4 linked regions of the Homo sapiens genome follow. The protein of the gene in region 2 purifies or fractionates together with the protein of the main gene of each other region. This does not show direct contact. Each region holds a gene or a part of one and is shown on either strand. Other genes may lie near its edges.

Region 1 (3,500 bases), on a different chromosome or scaffold from region 2:
CAACAAGGGCTAGACAGGAAATGTAAGTGAGTAAAATGGGGCAGGTAAAGACTACAGTGATTTGAAGATGTGTGTTCAATCTAAGGAGAAGGTTGATACTCTTGTCTAGTAAACTGGCTGCCTATGGGAGTATATGCCAATTGTTACGGAGTCATCTGATTTAAGAGAAGCTAAAATCTGGATTTATGTGAAATCTCCCAATTATTAAACATTATAAACTAATTAAAAAATAACATACAGTCAGGTGTGGTGGCTCACGCCTTTAATTCCAGCCCTTTGAGGGGTGGAGGTGGGAGGACTACTTGAGGCCAGGAATTTAAGGCCAGCTGGGGCAACATAGTGAGACCCCCACCTCTACAAAAAAGAAACTTAAAAATTAGCTGGGCATGGTGGTGCATGCCTGTAGTCGTAGCTACTTGGTAGGCTGAAGTGGGAAGATCTCGAAAGCCCAGAAGATAAAGGTTACAGTGAGCTACGATCTTGTCACTGCACTCCAGCCTAGCAGACAGAGCAAGACCCTATCTCTATGAAAAACTTAAAAATATATATATATATACCATGTGAGCCAAATAAAATACCTCTATGGGCTGGACTTGCCATAAGAGGCCTCAGTTTACAAACTCTGCTACAGGCAAAACTCAGACTACATTATCGTTAGCAAACATAAATGTAAATGCTACAAACCTTGACAAGTATAAATGGTAGATCAAGATTAGAGGTTCAAGTATATTATGTAAAGTATATGATGCAAAGTTTACCAACGGAAGAACTAAAATTAAGTATATATGACTAGCAGAGTATAGTGCAGTGCAAGAAATAAACAATAAATTTCATAATTTTATAGAGATAAAGTAACTGTTAATAAGCGACAGGTCACAAGTTAAAAATATATTTTAGTGCTCATTATTCTGAGATATAGAAATAAGTGCCAAAACAAATAAAAACTGGACAGTGGGATAAGGAGTATAAGTGAGACTTTACCTTTTCATGCTGCTTTGTACTGTTTGAATTTCATTACAATGTCATATATTTCCACAATCATGTTTTAAGATTTAGCATTTTTATCATTATGCACATATAATTGCATAATTTAAAAATTTTTCAAGTTTAATTTCAAGGAAAGATAGTTTGCCAGTTATGACTTTAATGCCATGAGCGAAAAAAAAGCATCAAGACTAAACCGTGTTTAATGTAAGTATCTAATTTCACAACTCCTAACATAACATGAACTCATGAACTCAAAAGCATCGACTTAGAAGACTACAAAAATTGTGCTTTAAAATTAATAAAGAGGCACCTGACTTTTGGGCTTCTGTAGATAAGAAAGGAGAAGTAAAAAAGAATCTTAGAAATCATAGGTTTATGAGTACATGCACCAAAGAATACAAAAAACACTGGTCTTCATTCTTATGTTAGCCTCCAAAGGAGTAATAGTAGCTAATATTTACTGAACATTTCCTATGTGCTAACTACCAAGCTAACGATGATACTAGCAACTCGGTGAGGTAAACACTACTACTATCCAAATATCACAGATAAAACTGAACTTTAAAGAAGTTAGGTCATTTTCCCAGGACCACATGCAAGTAAGTATCAAAGCAAAGATCCAAGGCCAGATCTGACATGAAATATGTGCTTTTAACAACTATAACCACCCTGCCTTTCCTACTATTGCAAGATAAAGGGATAAGCTCCAAGTTAAACACCAGAAATTTCTCCTGTGGTCTACTACCGGTAGGTCTGAACTTCCTTACTAATTCTAGTACCCTGTCCCATGCTTTGATAAGAGGAGACATGTCAAATTAACATCCTTTATAATTTGGTCCAAATTTCACTTTATCTTGCAGATATTATTTGAAAAATTCCTTGATACAGGACTGTGAACATTCCCTAATTTCAGTATAAATGAAGTTTCCTTTTCTGTTCTTTTAATGTTATTCCTTTTTTTATGGTTCCGAGGATTAGGAAAGTAACAACGTATACTTTCTCTGTCATGGTTTCTGTACTCCAGATAGACTGGTAGCCAACGCAATTGGAGGCAGAGAAACCCATTAGAGGCCTCTGCAATACTGCAGGTGTTCAGAGCTTCGGTATGTCTAAGTAAAAGTTATTTTAAAAAAAGAGAATTAATAAAAGTTGTTGGTTCAAAGTAATTAAGAGTGAGAGATGACTGCCAGGATGTGAAATACAGGAGAGGAAGAAAGTAATCAAGAATATAAGTTTGGAGCATGCCATTTACAATTCTGTATACCTTCCTCCCACATGACAGGTACTTGAAAATTTGCTGAACGGATGACTTACTGAATTAAAGATTTGCCAGTGTGAACATGCATAGGTCCTATAAATTAATAAGAGACATGGAAAACTAATGATATGACCTTAGAAGCCCAGAATCTGAAAGAGAATACCTAAGACCAGCAAGTCTTTAAAATAAAAACAAGAAACAAGACTATTACTCAAAGTATACTCTTCAGGAAGCTGATCTTGACTGACCTCACATGACTGATCATTATGACACTAACTAGGGTGAGGAGAGCTGATAGGTCTCTTTTGAAACTCTTTAAGGCTAGCTTGAACATGTTTGAGTATCATTTCACTGATAAACTATTTTAATATATCTTTTAATATTTTATTTAAATATCTATATAATATTTAATATATAATTTTAAAATTCTGAATTAATTAAAAGCTTAGCATTTGTAAGAACAGCACAAAGAACTCCTTCCTTTATATCCTTCACTCAGATTTACCAATTGTTAACATTTTGTTCTATTTGCTTTATCACTCTCTTCTCTTTTCCCTAAACTTTTTAAAAGTCACAGGCACACCATTTTACTCCTAAACACTTCAGGATATGACTTCCTAAGAGCAAAGATATTTACTTACATATCACAGAACAATTTTAAAAATCAGGAAATTTAATACTGAAAATACACAATTATCTAATTTGTATATTAGATAACAGACCTCGAATGTTGCCAATTCTCCCAATAACATCCTTTTTAGCAACTTTTTTCTGGTCTAGGATCTAATCTAAGATCATACTACACATTTTGTTTGCATGACTCTTTAATCTATTAATCTGGAACAGATAGTTTCTCAGCCTTTGTCTTTTATGACACTAACACTTTTGTAAAGTAGAAGTCAGCTGTTTCACAGAATGTCTCTCAATTGGGGTATGCCTGATATTTTATCCTGCTCAGTGCATCACACCAGGAGTACAGCGTTTCACTAAGTCCCATTACTAGCAATACTAAACTTGATCACTTGGGTAATGGGATGTTTCTTCACTGTAAAGTTATTTCTTACTTTGTGATTAATAAATAATGTATGAGGAGATACTTTTAGATTATGTAAATACCCTATTCCTCATAAAACATTCACTCACTAGTTTTAGCTAGTGATGACTCTTGCCTGAATCAATTATGGTGATGTGTGCAAAATGATTTGTATAACTCTTTCATTCTCGCAAATTTATTAACTGACATTCTATGGTATGC
Region 2 (3,500 bases):
TATAATTTCCATTAATAGAGTAAATAATCTTTTTATGTAGAAATATCTTTATTTTGTACTTATATGTACAAACGCCTACAATTTGACTTGTAGGAGCTATAGAAAAGCAAAGCATCTAATTAGAATGAGAAAATAGTGTCTAATCTCTTGAATCATCCTACTAGTAGCATTTAACTTAATATATAATTACAAGACTAATTTAGGCTGGGTACAGTGGCTCATGCCTGTAATCCTAGCCCTTTGGGAGGCTGAGACAAGAGGATTGCTTGAGGCCAGGAGTTTGAGACAAGCCTGGGCAACATAGCGAGACCCCTCTAGAAAAAAAATTGCAAAAAACTTAGCTAGGCGTGGTGGCACGAGCCTGTATTCCTAGCTACTAGGGAGTCTGAGGCAGGAGGACTGCTTGAGCCCAGGAGTCCAAGGCTGCTGTGAACTATGATTGCAGCACTGTACTATAGCCAGGGTGACAGAGTGAGACCCTATCTCCCCCAAAAAATTTTATTATTAAAAAAAGATCAACGAAGTATGCACACCTGCTATGTACCATTACTACAATGAGTAAATATTGACCTGTTCATAAAATCATCTAGTGGCTGGCCTAGAGGAATTAGTACCCTCTGCAGATGGTATTCAATTGAGGCAGCTAAGCTTGCCACTGTAAGAAAGTATGAGAAGATTAAGATCTTTTACTAAATGAGCACCAAAAAACTTTAAGGTACTTAAAAAAATTTGGTCTTGAATTCAGTTTTTAGTTGGCTATCTTATAAAATCTTGACTAAAGTTTAGACAAAAAAAAATAATAATAATTTTCCAAAGACAAACATCAAGTGAAATATCCCTATAACAATATGAAATAACGTACTTTAAAAACAACTTGGTTTTCGAATTTTTCAATTAATACTAAAGGCTTCTAACTTAAGTTTTAAAATAAAATTCTGTCATCAATTGTTCATTAAAAGAACACATGCATAACACAAACTTAGCAGCTTGGAAGAAAGAAAAAATAAAAGAACACAAGCCACAAATAAGCTGTAGTTCATTCAGATAAAAATAAATGATTTCATAAAATTTTTGGGAAAAAAATTTTAGTTAGCAGTTTGTCAACAATAAAAATCCTGAATGTTGTTATGTTCTCCAATAGGATTAATAAAAACACAATATTTCAGTGTTTAATGACTACAGTCAAGTAGAAGAAACAAAAGTAAAAAGGTAACTTTTCTTCTAGATTGTAAGGTCATTAGCAAAAATCTACAGAACTCTAGGAAAAATGAAAAAGGCAATCTTTTAAAAATGAAGTTTCACCAGAAACTTAAGAAGCAAGGGCAAGGCTTAAAAAAGAACCAAAAACCAGAAAATAAAATGTGCCAGCGGCATCGATCCTACGTAACTCAATACAGAAGAAAACATTATGAGAGTGATATAATACTTTCAATCAGATCAAAATACAAGTTCTTTCCAAAGGTAAAAGTAAAAAGCAGAAACAAGTTCAAAGAAATTACAAAATAAATTATAAAAATTCTAATATTTTATAACTTTTTATCCAGGTGATTTGAACACACTGTACCTTCTCACCTTACTCTAGGAAACTCTGGTTTTATTACACCAAAAAGTGTGTAACATTTGTCTAAGACAGTTGAGAGGGCTGACCAACACTGAACAAGGTAAAGGAAGGTTCTTTTTGTTTTTTTATGGAAAAAAATTTTTTTTTTAATTTTACTTTAAGTTTTAGGGTACATGTGCACAATCTAAGGGGTTATCACTCCTTACAGCTCTCAGAGGTATTGCTTGTTAAATTTCCCTCCTAGATTCAGGATTCCCCATGAATCACAAAGAAAGCAATTTTGTGAAAACAATCCAATTACATGCAGAAAACATGTGTGCACTGACACATGTGCACACACACACATGAACAAAACTGGTCGACCTGCTAACTCCCCATTGGCATGGCTTTGAAATCATATATGGCAAGAGGTAGATGTGGAGCTTTCTGGTCATTCTCCTGGGAAACTGTAGAGCACAGTCATGAATTGCTTAACAACAGGAAGCATTCTGAGAAATGCATTGTTATAGCCAATTTCATTGTTGTGCTAACATCATAGAATGTGCTTACACAAACCTAGTCAGTATAGCTAACTACATACCTAGGCTACAAAGTAGAGCCTGTTTACTCCTAAGCTACAAACCTGTACAGCATATGACTGTACTCAGTACTGGAAGCAACTGTAACACAATGCTATCTGTCTATTCTAAATATATCTAAACATAGAAAAGGTACAGTGAAAACACTGTATAAAAGATAAAAAATGGTAAACTTTATAGGGTACTTATCATAGGACATTACTATACACTACTATAGACTTATAAACACAGTATATGCTTAGGCTACACTAAATTTATCAATTTATTTTTCTGCAATAATAAATTAACTTGGCCAGTCCCAGTGGCTCACACCTGTAATCCTAGCTATTTGGGAGAGTGAAGTGGAAAGATTGCTTGAGTCCAGGAGTTGGAGGCTGCAGTGAGCTATCATCATGCCAGTGCACTCCAGCTTATTTATTTTTCATTTTTGAGACAGGGTCTCACTCTGTTGCTCAGGCTGGAGTGCAGTGGCATGATCATGGCTCACTGCTGCCTCAAACTCTTGGGCTCAAATGATTTTTCCACCTCAGCCTCCTGAGTAGCTGAGACTACCTACAAGGCATGTGGAAACAAACCTGGCTATTAAAAAAATTTTTTTTGGCTAGGTGTGGTAGCTCATGCCCGTAATCCTAGCACTTTGGGAGCCCAAGGTGGGCAGATCGCTTGAGGTCAGGAGTTTGAGACCAGCCTGACCAACATGCTGAAACCCCATCTCTACCAAAAATACAAAAATTAGCCAGGCGTGGTGGCAAGTAATCTCAGCTACTCAGGAGGCTGAGGAGGAGAATCGCTTGAACTTGGGAGGCAGAGGTCGCCGTGAGCCAAGATCATGCCACTGCACTCCAGCCTGGGTGACAGAGCAAGAGTCCACCTCAAAAGAAAAAATAAATTTTTTTTTGTAGAGATGGTGTCTCACTATGTTGCCCAGGCTGGTCTCACATTCCTCCTGCCTTGGCCTCCCAATGTGGTGGGATTGTAGGTGTGAGCCACTGTGTCCAACCCACACTCCAGCTAGGTGATAGAGTGACACCCTGTCTCTTAAAATAGATAAAAATAATATACAGAAGACATAAAAGCAGAGGTTAATGATTAAAAAAAAGAGCTAGGTAAGTTATCCCCTCTTTTTTACATATAAATTCAGAAACTCTTTTAATGCTGTTTACTAATGACATTATAGCCACTGTGTCCAGCCTGTATTCCAGCTAGGTGACAGAGTGAGACCCTGTCTCTTAAAATAGATAAAAATAATATACAGAAGACATAAAAGCAGAGGTTAATGAGTTAAAAAAAAGAGCTAGGTAAGTTATCCCCTCTTTTTTACATATAAATTCAGAAAATCTTTTAATGCTGTTTACTAATGA
Region 3 (3,500 bases), on a different chromosome or scaffold from region 2:
TCCCAAGTAGCTGGGATTACAGGCACCCGCAACCACGCCCGGCTAACTTTTGTATTTTTAGTAGAGACGAGGTTTCACCATGTTGGCCAGGCTGGTCTCGAACTCCTGACCTTGTGATCCACCCACCTCGGTCTCCCAAAAGTACTGGGATTACAGTCATGAGCCACTGCGCTAGGCCACCACATTTAATCTTTACAAAAACTCTTATGAGATGAGGACTACGACTAACCCTATTTTACAGCTGAGGAAACTGAAGTTTGCCTTGAGGCAGTTATTAAACAATAACTTATCCATGTTCACACACCTAGTAAGAGGAGGAGCTAGGATTTGAATTAGGTCAAATTCCAGAGCTATCCAACATATGTAATACCTCCCAATGCTATGTTTTGTCAAAAAGTTAGAAATTCCTTGATCTGGGGAGAAATAGTGTCTCAGCAGGGGCTTACTCTTTGTGGATATCATTAGAAGGGCATAACTAACAGTCAAGCTTCATCTAGGCAGAAAGCTATTTGCAACAAAAAGACTTTCCTGGATAACAAGAACCCCCTACCTATCCTTGTTTAAAGGACAAAAATAAGTATCTTTTTTTTTTTTTTTTTTTGAGACAGTGTCACGCTCTGTCGCCCAAGCTGGAGCACAGTGGCTGATGTCGGCTCACTGCAACCTCTGCCTCCTGGGTTCAAGCAATTCTCCTGCCTCAGCCTCCCACGTAGCTGGGACTACAGGTGCGTGCCACCATGGCCAGCTAATTTTTGTATTTTTAACAGAGATGGGGTTTCACTGTGTTGCCCAGGCTGGTCTCGATCTCTTGACCTCATGATCCCCCTGCTTTGGCTTCCCAAAGTGCTGGGATTACAGGCGTGAGCCACCGTGCCCGGCAAGTATCTTCTTGAATGAGGACAAACAGCTGGCTCTATCCAGATGGGCATGAGAAGCTAGACTTTCCATACCCTCTCTAAACCCTGAAATTTTACCTTTTGGCTTTCTAAGAGGTTAAAGAAGAAAAGACAATATAAGAATCTACTGAGAACAGGCATGGTGGCTCACACATTTAATCCCAGCACTTTGGGAGGCCGAGGTGGGCAGATCACTTGAGGTCAGGAGTTCGAGACCAGCCTGACCAACATGGTGAAACCCTGTCTCTACTAAAAATACAAAAAAAATTAGGCAGGCATGGTGGCAGGTGCCTGTAATCCCAGCTACTTGGGAGGCTGAGACAGGAGAATCACTTGAAGCCAGGAGGCAGAGGCTGCAGTGAACTGAGATTGCACCACTGCACTCCAGCCTGGGTGACAGAGAGAGACTGGAATCCACTGGAGACAAGATGAGAATCCAATGGAAAAGAAGGGTGATAATAAGAACCACTAATACTTACATGTAAAATCAGAACAGCAAAGATGTGGGCAAAAAAGACTGGGCTAAATGATGATGACATATAAAGGTTAAAATCCCAATAGATAAGAATATTTAAAATACAAGTAGGTCACAATCAAATATCAGTTTTGTTTGTTTTTTCATTAAAAAAACTAGAGGTTCAGGGACTGAAAAGAACATTCAAAAGGGGAATGAGCCGGGTGCAGTGGCTCACGCCTGTAATCCCAGCACTTTGGGAGGCCAAGGTAGGCGCATCACGAGGTCAGGAGATCAAGATCATCCTGGCTAACACAGTGAAACCCGGTGTCTGCTAAAAATACAAAAAATTAGCTGGGCGTGGTGGCATGCGCCTGTACGCCCAGCTACTTGGGAGACTGAGGCAGGAGAATCGCTTGAACCCAGGAGGCGGACGTTGCAATGAGCCAAGGTCGTGTCACTGCACTCCAGCCTGGCGACAGAGCAAGACTCCATCTCAAAAAACAAAACAAAACAAAAAGGGGGCAGGGGGGAATTATTACAAACAGGATGGGAGATATTTAAAAAAACAACAACAGATCTGGCCATAGAAGAAACAAGAACTTCTGTATTTCTCAGAACTTGTCTAAAGAGAGGAGGTATGCAGAGCACATTCTTTTTGTTCGAGAATAAAGACTATACAATTAGTTTGAACTTCTGTTATGTTTTTTAATTAGGACATGGAAAGGAATATAGGGTAAGGTCAATAAGCCTCACTGTTTTTGATCTCAATGAAAAATTCTAGGGCCAGGCGCAGTGGCTCACGCCTGTAATCCCAGCATTTTGGGAAGCTGAGGGAGGCGGATCACAAGGTCAGGAGTTCGAGACCAGCCTGGCTAACACAGTGAAACCCTGTCTCTACTAAAAATACAAAAAATTAGCCAGGTATGGTGGCGGGCGCCTGTGGTACCAGCTACTCAGGAGGCTGAGGCAGGAGAATGGCATGAACCCGGGAGGTGGAGCTTGCAGTGAGCCGAGATCCTGCCACTGCACTCCATCCTGGGCAACAGAGCGAGACTCTGTCTCAAAAAAAAAAAAAAAAAAAAAGAAAAATTCTAAAAAATATTAATTTCATTACCTAATACACTAATGTTATTATAATTTTTAGAAATTAACCCAGCCTGGGCAATATAGTGAGACCCCGACTCTACAAAAAAATAAAAAAAGTTGGCCAGGTACAGTGGTATGTGCTTGTAGCACTAGGTGCTTGGGAGGATGAGGTGGGAGGATCATTTAGTTGAGGAGTTTGAGGTTGCAGTGAGCTATGAAAGCACCACTGCACTCCAGCCTAGGTGACAGAGTTGAGATACACCGTTTCAAGAAAGAAATTAAGCTCAAAACTTATGTGTTCTAAGACCTTTTCTAGGTCTCATCTGCTAATATGAAAATGGTTCAATTAACTAACACAAATTTCAACATGATTGTCATCAACATAAATCCTCAGAAATTGTTGCCTTCTCAGAACGATGTTTTTGCCTATAGACTAGCCTGAAAGGCTAAATATCTTAACGACTTTTCCAAATAATTCTCACTCCAAAATTTAAAAGATATGTAAATGAAATAAGCTTTCCCCAAAAGTGTGCTCAATCTGTGCTTAAAAAGGTTTAAATGTGGGTCTGTACACTGGGCTGTATTTTGAATCTTACCATAAATTATCACCCTTTGTGATGTGTGCTCTTATTTTATAGGTTTGCACTGGCAGAGCTAAAATACAAATGGCTGTTTCCATCTAGAAACAAAGTAAAATTTATTTACACAAAATTTACAATAAGCTTCTACAATGCTGATACCATGGTTCTAGGAAGTTAATGCTAATGCCACAGTTACAAGAGATCTAGAGCGCTAGGCTACTAAGATATTTTGTTAACAGAAACAGAACAGTATGCTGTCTTAGGTTGCACCTTCCCAGAAGGAGACCCCAAGACAAAGATTAGAGAAAAAGTAGTTTATTCAGGAGCGAATCTCACAAAGCTACAGTAGGGGACAGAAGAAGTGGGACACAGAAGGGAAGGAAGCCTTAGAGGTACGTTTATGAGCAGGTTACAGCTGTGGGTATTGGGCTCCGGAAGACTAAACAGAATGTGCTTGAAAGTTGTCCTACTTGAGGAAGC
Region 4 (3,500 bases), on a different chromosome or scaffold from region 2:
GCCACTGTGCCCGACCCAGAACATTCTTTTTACCAAACCCTTTGGCATATGCTAGACAATGTGACCCATATATATTTTTATATTGATGTATTTGACTAGCATTAGATCATTTAATTCCCACTAGCACCCTAGGAAATGGGTACTAGGGCTATCTCCATGTACTAATGAGAAAACCAGGGCTTAGATGTCAAGAAACTTGCCCAGTGTCACAGCCAGCAAATAGCAGGGCTGGAAATCAAACCCAGGCCCAGGCCAGGTGCGGTGGCTCACGCCTCTAATCCCAGCACTTTGGCAGGCCAAGGCGGACAGATCACCTGAGCTCAAGAGTTCGAGACCAGCCTGACCAATATGGTGAAACCCTGTCTCTACTAAAAATACAAAAAATTAGCTGGGCTTGGTGGCATGCACCCGTAGTCCCAGATACTAGGGAAACTGAGACAGGAGAATTTCTTGAACCTGGCAGGTGGAGGTTGCAGTGAGCCAAGATTGCACCACTGCACTCCAGCCTGGGTGACAGAGCGAGACTCTGTCTCAAAAACAAACAAACAAACAAACAAACAAACAAAAACCCAGGTCCAACTCCAAAACTTATACTCTTAACTCCCAAAGTAAAGTGGTAGGTACTACACAAAAAGTTCTACTTAGGATTCCTAAAGTTACAACACAGATATAAAATTAGGTCACTGTTGTAACCAAAATGATGAGATTGCAGCCAGCAATAAAACTCCAGTAAGTATAAACACCATCAGTGCCAACTGTAAAATTATTCACATGCTGCAGTCTTCCCACTAGCATTGCACAGTGCCCATGCACACAGGAGCAGGCTCTGCTTTCTATTCAAACCTAGCTAACAGCTGCCCATCTCCTCCAGCGGTAAACAACTATGTTGGAAATCCTCTGAGAAAATGTTACCCATGGGAAGCGACAGCTTAGCTCAGCAGGAATACCAGGCAGGGCCTCTAGGAACAGAGAAAGTGTGAGGCTGGATGACATGGGCCTCATCCCTGGAAAAACTGGAGAAGGCGCTGTAGGCAGGGTCAGAAGCAGTGTCTCTGGCGAAGGGCAGGGCAGTTATCTCATCATCTACAACACATTCTTGGATGCCCGGGTGACCAATGCCTGGGAAGATTCTGCTTCGCTAGAAAGCTAGTGCCAGCCTCCGGGACTGGCTCCAGCTCGGGGAAACCACCTTCACAACATGCATGATGTCCAAGGTGGCAAAAATCTGGCCTGGCCTCCTCACTGCTGCCCAAAGAACTTCAAGGGAAGTACCAGGAAGGCTCTGGAAGGACAGCAGCAGCCCAGGGGGTTCCCTAGAACTAGCACACATGTGCAGTAAAGTTCATGGCTCTTCTGAACTGAGATGCAGGCAAAAATTAGCAATAATGGGAAGGAAGAAAAGCAGCAGCTCCTCTTCTCCAGGCAAGTGTGGGTGTGCGCTCTCTGCACTGTATGAGCCACATCGTTATTCAATTGCAGATATGCACATCTGTAATGGTGCCCTTGTACTTTTCCAGTAAATGTGTATACACACAAACAGAAGTTGTTTCCCAAACTTGGCTGGGCGTGTTGGCTCACGCCTGTAATCCCAGCACTTTGGGAGGCCAAGGTGGGCGGATCACCTGAGGCCAGGAGTTCAAAACCAGCCTGGCCAACATGGTGAAACCCCATCTCTACTAAAAATACAAAACATTAGCTGGGTGTGGTGGTGGGCACCTGTAGCAGGAGAATTGCTTGAACCTGGTTGGTGGAGGTTGCAGTGAGCCAAGGTCCCACCACCGCACTCCAGCCTGGGCAACAAGAGCGAAACTCCATCTCAAAAAAGAAAAAAAAAAAGAAATTGTTTCCCAAACCTGATGGAAGCACCTTAGAAGTGAGAATGTAAGACTCACCTTATGTTTTTCGGAGGGTTTCATGTACAAGAAAGGTGAAGGATTTTCATTATTATTTTTTTTTTATAAGACAGGGTCTTGTTCTGTTGCCGAGCGTGACCTTGAACTCCTGGCTCAAGAGATCATCTTGCCTCAGCCTAAGCTGGGACTACAGGTGTGCTCCACTACACCCAGCCTGGAGCTTTCATTATGAAAGGTTGCGTCTTGAATTCATGACTGATCATTCAATATTCACATTATTTAAATTGGCCACACAGTGGATTTCCTGTACTGAAGTTTATCATAATGGACTATTCACATTTATGGGGTCAATATAATGGGTCGTCAGGTTATAAAAGGAATTCTGGGCTGGGCACGGTGGCTCATGCCTATAATCCCAGCACTTTGGGAGGCTGAGGCGTGTGGATCACCTGAGGTCAGGAGTTCAAGACCAGCCTGGCCAACGTGGCAAAACCTCATCTCTAGTAAAAATACAAAAATTAGCCAGGTGTGGTGGTGGGCACTTGTAATCCAGCTATTCGGGAGGCTGAGGCAGGAGAATCGCTTGAACCCGGGAGGCAGAGGTTGCAGTGAGCCGAGATCATGCCACTGCACCCCAGCCTGGGTGACAGAGGGAGACTTCGTCTCAAAAAATAAAAATAATAAAATAAAAGGAATTCTGGACTGGGTATGGTGGCTCATGCCTGTAATCCCAATACTTTGGCAGGCGAAGGCAGGAAGTTCGCTTGAGCCCAGGTATTTGAGACCAATCTGGGCAATGTAGCAAGACCCCATCTCTACAAAAAATACAAAAATTAGCCAAGGTGTGGGTAGTGCATGCCTGTGGTCCCAGCTACTTGCGAGTATCACTCGAGCCCAGGAGTTTGAGGTTATAGTGAGCTATGATCACGCCACTGCACTCTAGCCTGGATGACAGAGCGAGACCCTGTCTTACCAAGTACTGTAAAAATTAAGCCAATTCTGGGTGGATCACTTGAGGTCAGGAGTTTGAGACCAGCCTGGCCAACATGATGAAACCCTGTCTCTACTAACAAACAAAAACTACCTGGGCATGGTGGTGCATGCCTGTAATCTCAGCTACTCGGGAGGCTGAGGCAGGAGAATTGCTTGAACTGGGGAGGCGGAGGTTGCAGTGAGCCATGATTGCGCCACTGCACTCCAGCCCGGGCGATAGGGCGAGACTCCATCTCAAAAAAAAAAAAATTAAGCCAATTCAAATTTAGACCTTATAGTGCACCACGTCAATAAGTAATGGTTAGATAAATACAGACAAATATGATCTTAGAAAAAAAATTTGGAAAAGCCACAAAGATTCACAATTTTATAAAGAAGATAGCCAACGTATTGACAGACCCAGTTATCTGACCTAGCTATTCAGAAGCCCACCAGAAGTTTAACAGCTGCTACTTCTTTCCCACTGTGCCTGCCCTGCCTCTAGCCAGCATCGGCACTCGGGCAGGAGCTCAGACTGCAAGGAGGAGACCTGCACCTGCCCAAAGGACATCCTAAACCTCCTCTTCGTACCAGTATATTGTTCCCACAAATGTCCCTAAGACAACAGGAGCGGTGTCCCCTGTATCTCCCATGCATATTCTTCACCTTTGCACA

Evidence for each region. Proteins that work in one complex are often made in the same cells at the same time.
Region 1: the proteins of NEK1 (region 2) and EXOG purify together in Homo sapiens (affinity purification with mass spectrometry, with the first as the bait; one large-scale study listed by BioGRID). This does not show direct contact.
Region 3: the proteins of NEK1 (region 2) and CAPZA1 purify together in Homo sapiens (affinity purification with mass spectrometry, with the first as the bait; one large-scale study listed by BioGRID). This does not show direct contact.
Region 4: the proteins of NEK1 (region 2) and CPT1A purify together in Homo sapiens (affinity purification with mass spectrometry, with the first as the bait; one large-scale study listed by BioGRID). This does not show direct contact.

The regions. Positions count from the first base shown.
Region 1 is NC_000003.12:38,509,840-38,513,339, reverse strand, and holds part of EXOG (nuclease EXOG, mitochondrial isoform 1 precursor), read right to left. Parts: intron 1-3,500. UniProt on the Homo sapiens protein: Endo/exonuclease with nicking activity towards supercoiled DNA, a preference for single-stranded DNA and 5'-3' exonuclease activity.
Region 2 is NC_000004.12:169,403,084-169,406,583, forward strand, and holds part of NEK1 (serine/threonine-protein kinase Nek1), read right to left. Parts: intron 1-3,500. UniProt on the Homo sapiens protein: Phosphorylates serines and threonines, but also appears to possess tyrosine kinase activity. Involved in DNA damage checkpoint control and for proper DNA damage repair.
Region 3 is NC_000001.11:112,661,332-112,664,831, reverse strand, and holds part of CAPZA1 (F-actin-capping protein subunit alpha-1), read right to left. Parts: intron 1-3,500. UniProt on the Homo sapiens protein: F-actin-capping proteins bind in a Ca(2+)-independent manner to the fast growing ends of actin filaments (barbed end) thereby blocking the exchange of subunits at these ends.
Region 4 is NC_000011.10:68,831,917-68,835,416, forward strand, and holds part of CPT1A (carnitine O-palmitoyltransferase 1, liver isoform), read right to left. Parts: intron 1-3,500. UniProt on the Homo sapiens protein: Catalyzes the transfer of the acyl group of long-chain fatty acid-CoA conjugates onto carnitine, an essential step for the mitochondrial uptake of long-chain fatty acids and their subsequent beta-oxidation in the mitochondrion.